2 separate regions of the Homo sapiens genome follow, and region 2 is linked to region 1. Evidence: fine-mapped expression QTL. A gene starts in region 1. The other region holds a variant in brackets. All regions are shown on one strand. Distances are between the middles of the regions.

What was found. PIP is the estimated chance that this variant, and not a neighbour inherited with it, causes the effect.
Region 2: its variant is fine-mapped to the expression of MSL2 in regulatory T cells (Schmiedel 2018, PIP 0.95).

Annotation. Positions count from the first base shown.
Region 1 is chr3:136,195,176-136,198,073 of GRCh38, forward strand. It overlaps MSL2 (MSL complex subunit 2), which reads right to left and starts at 1,160. Exons shown (of 2, transcript NM_018133.4): 1 at 1-1,160. RefSeq lists enhancers at 1-17, 68-117, 117-863, 168-237, 864-1,610 and 2 more and a silencer at 578-967.
Region 2 is chr3:135,425,903-135,428,811 of GRCh38, forward strand. All of the region lies in intron 4 of LOC105374122 (a long non-coding RNA gene), which reads right to left. Among named protein-coding and RNA genes, the nearest start is that of PPP2R3A, 540 kb to the right of the region's middle. The variant A/G (reference allele first, on the strand shown) is at 1,669.

The sequences.
Region 1 (2,898 bases):
CAGCCAGGGAACGATGGCGAATTTGCAACAATTCGGAAGAAATCAGAGCCGAACCATTGGCCAAACAAGTAACCAAAATCCGTGCAAGTTTGTGGAGCTGAAACAATCCTCCCACACATGGGGCCTTGGCGCCCCTCCGTCCCTGAGACTTCCAGACCAAAAATATGAGAGAGAAACCAGCGTTCGAGTTCGTCCGGAGCGACCACAGAGCGCAGAACGCGGCGGCTTGGGCGCTCGGGGCGGGACTCGGAGCTCAGTCTAGCCCCGCGGCTCGGCAGGCGGCCTGCACTCGAGCTCCATCTCCGGACACGGAGGCGCCTCCTCAAGTCGAGCTGGCAGGCGCGGGAGCAGGCCCCGGCCCCGTCTGAGGCGCGGCACGCTTCTCCCGGGCTGCAGGGCCTCTTACTCCATCCCAGTACAGGGCGCGGAGGCGGCGGCGACGGCAAGGACGACGGTCGGGCAGCGGCTTCCCGGATCTAGTGCAAGACGCCGCGGCGGCGACGAAGGTTGATGTTGCGGCTGGCGGACGCCGCCGCCGCGCTCTCCATATCGGACGCGGGGCCCAGACTGCGCCCTGGCTCTCCGCCCCGTGGGTTGCAGCCCGCAGTTCCCCGAGGTGGCGAGGCGGGCGGGAGTCCTCAACCCGGAGGGGAAGGCCGGGGAGGAAGTGCGCGGGCCGCCGCCGGCGGGCGGGAGGGGGCGGGGGGCAAGCCCGGCCGGGCCGCGGCGGCGCCCCTCGCGCCTCAGTCGCACACTCCGGGGTCACCAGACTCAAGCGCCGCCCCCTCACTGCCCGGCCATTTTTTCGGCGCCACACACACAGACGACTCCTCCGCCGAGCACGACGGCCGCCGCCGCCCTCAGCACTCCCCGGCCGCGGAAGGCAAGCGCTCACACCGCCAGGCCCCGCCGCCGCCCAGCGCACACAGCAAGGCCCCGCCGCAGGCCCCTCCCCCGTGCCTCGCCGCCCTCACCCCGACTCCACGCGCCACTCCAGCTCGGTAGGGCCCGGGCTGCTGCGGCCTTAATGGATCCCGCGGGCTGTGTGGCGCCTCAGGCCTCTGCTGGCGGCGACGACGACCGTTACCCCAACGGGCAAAGCCACTGTCATCCCCGAGACTCCCCCGCCGCCGTCGTCGCTAGCGCTCGCACGCATGCGCAGAGCACACTCTCACCCCTCCCCCCTTTCCTCTCCCTTCGCTTCCCTTTTCCCTTGCTTCTCCTCTAACAACCCCCTCCACAGCCTCCCAGAGCTACCGGCTCACTCCACGCATGCGCAAGCTGCTACCTAGCTCCGCCGCCTTTCGCCCTTCCGCGTGCGCTTTGACCGCCCACCCAGAAAACCGGATAAACACATCAGCCTGCTCGCGCCAGTCCCTCACCGCTGCCAACCCACCCTGGGCTCACTGCGCATGCCTGGCTCTCCACTTCGACTCTCAGAATGGAGCATGCTCTCTGCGAGCCGACAGCTCTCTTCGCCCCTCCCCCACGTGCTCTCAAATTCCCTCTCCCAGGCATGTGGGCTGTGGTGAAACATTCGTTAGCTGGCACATCCTTCCCCAGTGTGGGCTGCAGGCTTCCCGCATTACACTGCTTCTGTGCCCGCCAACGCCGGGGCCCGACTTGGTAGCGCCATGTGGCGCTCTGCACTGGCCTGAACGCGGCCTCTCGTCCTGACTGACCGCGGTGTGAGGAAATAGCCGCGCCAGGCCCCAAGCCCCGCCCTCGCGGCCTTTCTCCTGGAACCGCTCATCCCGACCGCGGAAAGGGCGCAGCCTCGGCTGGCTGGCAGGCTCTCGCCGAGCCGGGAAGGCTGCAGTAGTCAACGTGGCTGCGCGCCCAGCAGGCGTGCGGACGGCTTTTGCCGGGTCGGGGCCGCGTTCCGCACCTCTCTGCGGTGGTTCGCAGTCAGAGGGCTCTAAGGCCCTGGCAGGCTGTATGTAAGCGTGGAGGCTCGAACCCACTGCCCCCTCCTACCCGTCGGACCCGCGCTGTTCCCACGGCCTCTGGCCCTTGGACTCGTGCGGCCTCACCTTCATGGGTGCCGATCAGGACTTCACCGAGCTCTCACCGGAACAGAGTCCTGTTTTAAAAACAAAACGAACTCCTTTTTTTTTTTTTTGAAAGACCTAGCTTTTTTAAAAGACCTAGCTCTTCTGTGTGAACAGATGTCTTGAAGAATGCGTGATCTTGCTCTAGAACAAACCCAAATCCTTGCAAATGTTTTGTTTTTTAAAACAAGCTTTTGCCTTTTGTTTTTGCAGGAGATCAAGGGCACTGGGATATAAATAAACAAAAGCCTGACTTAGTAGATGACTTCCCTCCCATCTCAAAGTACAAAACCTTTTTTTGAGTAGCACAAATAGTAACAGGCCATAGGAAGCATTTCTTATCTCTGTACACACCAAAGCTCCTCAGCATAATTTTTCATGCACAGTAGGTACTCTATACGTTTGCAAAGTGAAAATTATGATGCGTGTAAATCTATTGTGGCACATGTTACATATGTACACAGGCACGTATATGGAACATGTAAATGTGGTACGTGTTAGTTACAAGCTGCCACTTGAGGTGAGTAGGAATAGTTAAGATATCAAGGGAACACATATAATCTCGATTTATAATTTCTATTACCATTTGAAGACAGGTTTTTTTTTCACAAGACCTACCATATTATCAACACTTAAATATTAAGCAGTAAGAATATAACTTCCTAATTTTGATTAGCTGTGCAAACTGTATTTGGTTGTCTTATACGTGGAAAATGACAAATATTCTAAAAGCCACTCTCATTTTTAAAAGCTCTCTTTTTTTTTTTTTTTTTGCATAAGAGATCTTTTCTAAGCTCTCCTTCAAATAAAATTGTTACACGGTTCTATTTTTACTCCAGACTCTAAG
Region 2 (2,909 bases), 770 kb before region 1:
TAGATAATCTGAATAGACCTATAACAAGTGAAAAGAATGAATTAATAATTTAAAAGCCAGCCACAAGGAAAGCCCAGGCCCAGATGGCTTCAAAGATAAATTTAACCAAACACTTAATGAAAAATTAGTACCAATTCTTCACAAATGCTTCCGGAAAACAAAAGAATAGGGCACAATTCTCAGCTCATTCTACGAGACCAACACTACCCTGATACCAAAACCAGACAAATAAATCACATAAAGAAAACTACAGACCAATATCCTTTAGAAATATACAAGCAAGAAACCCTCAGCAAGCTGAATCTAGCCATATATACAAAGGATTACACACCATAAGCAAGTGGAAATTATCCTAGGAATGCAAGATTGGGTCAACTTATGAAAATCAATCAATATAAAATATCACATTAATAGAATAAAGAAAAAACACATCACCAACAAGCACATAAAAAGATGCTTCACATTATTAGTCATCAAGAAAATGCAAATCAAAACTACAATGAGACACAACTTCATATCCATTAAAATGGCTAGAATAAAAAAAGTCACATACTAATAAATGTTGGGGAGGATACATACAAATCAAAACCTTTAGGCATTTTAAGTGGGAATGCAAAATGGCGCAGCACTTGAGAAAACAGTTTGGCAGTTTTGCAAATTGTCAAACACAGACTTGCCATATGATTCAGCAATTTCAATCCTAGGTATTTGCCCAAGGGAAATGAAAACATATGCCCACACAAAAGTGTGTCTACAATGTTAATAGTGTTATTCATATTAACTGTAAGGTGAAGCAACCCACATGTTTAGCAACTGATAAATGGATACACATCATGTGACATATTCATGTAATGATGTAGTATTTAGCAATTAAAAAGAACAACTTGATGATGCATGCGCTTTGGATGAACCTTGAAAACATTATGCTAACTGAAGAAGTCAGATAGAAAAACCACATACTGTCTGATTCCATTTATACTAAAATATCAGAATAGGCAAATCTATAGAGACAGAAAGTAAATTAGTGGTTGCCTAGGATTTAGGAAGGGAGCAAAATGGAGAGTGACTGCTAATAGGTGGAGCATTTTGTTTTTTTAGTTTGTGGTGGTAATTGCACAACTGTGTGAGTATACTACAATCCACTGGATTGTATACCTTAAATGGGTTGATTTTATGGTATGTGAATTTGATATGGTTTGGATCTGTGTCCCCACCAAATCTCATGTTGAGTTGTAATCCCCAACATTGGAGGTGGGGCCTGGTACGCGGTGATGGGATCATAGGGGTGGATTTCTCATGAATGGATTAACACCATCCCCCTTGATACTCTCCTCATGATACTGAGTTCCCTTGAGATCTGGTCGCTTAAAAGTGTGTGACACCTCCCCCCTCACTCTGTCTTGCACCTGCTCCCACCATATGAGACACCTACTTCTTCTTCACCTTCTGCCATGATTGTAAGTTTCCTGAGACCTCCCCAGAAGCCAAGCAGATGCCAGCATCATGTCTCCTGTACAACCTGTGGAGCTATGAGCCAATTAAATTATAAATTATCCAGTCACAGCTATTTCTTTACAGCAATGCAAGAACAGGGTAATACAGAATTATATCTAAATAATTATGTTTTTAAAAACAACCAACTATAATGAGGCACTGAAAAATAAAGAA[A/G]TGGTGCTACAGGCTGAATTGTGCCCTCTGTCCAAAGTCATATGTGGAAGTCCTAACACTAGTTCCACAGAATGTGTCTGTATTTGAAGGTGGGGTCTTTAAAAAGTCAATTAAAGTAAAATTAGGTCATATGGGTGGGCACTAATCCAATATGACTGGTGTCCTTAGAAGAAGAGAAGATTATTTTGAGTTACAACCATCATTCTCAGCAAACTATCGCAAGAACAAAAAACTGAACACCGCATGTTCTCACTCATAGGTGGGAATTGAACGATGAGAACACTTGGACACAGGAAGGGGAACATCACACACTGGGGCCTGTTGTGGGGTTGGGGAAGGGGGGAGGGATAGCATTAGGAGATATACCTAATGTAAATGACGAGTTAATGGGTGCGGCACATCAACATGGCACATGTATACATATGTAACAAACCCGCACGTTGTGCACATGTACCCTAGAACTTAAAGTATCGTTAAAAAAAAAAAAAGATTAAGACACAGACAACACACAGACTGAGAGGTAACCACGTGAGGACACAGCAAGAAGATAGCCATTTGCAAGCCATGGAAAGAAGCCACAGAAGAAGCCAAACCTGCCAATGCCTTGATCTTGAACTTCTAGTCTCCAGAACTGTAAGAAAATAAAATCCTGTTGTTTAAGCTACACCATCTGTGGTTTTGTTAACCCTAGCAAATTACTGCAGATGGAAAACATGAAAGAGAAATAGGAATATGGGGAATAGACCAAAGGGTCTAACATACATCTGAAAAGAGCTCCAGAAGAAGAAAATAGAAAGAGTAGAGAACAAGCAATACATGGATACAAAGAAATATCTGAATTGATCAAAGTAATAAACATTCAGATACAGAAACTGGACAAAGACATTCCAAAAAAGAGAAAATAAAAACTACAGATCAATATCTCTTATGTCAGTAAATGAAAAAAGGCATTTGGCAAAATTTGATATCCATTCCTGCTAAAAGTTCTCACCAAACTAGAAATATATAACTTCTTTAACCTGATAAAAGACAGCTATAAAAAGCATAAAGTTAACATCAGACTTAATGTTACATAAAGACTGAATGCTTTCTCTCTAACTTGGGAAAAAAGCAAAGATATACTGTCTCACCACCTCTACTTAACATTGTACAAAAAGTCCTACCCAGTGCAATGAGTTAAGAAAAAAATAAAATATATACCGGCTGGAAAAGAGGAAATAAAACAATTCCCATTTATAGGT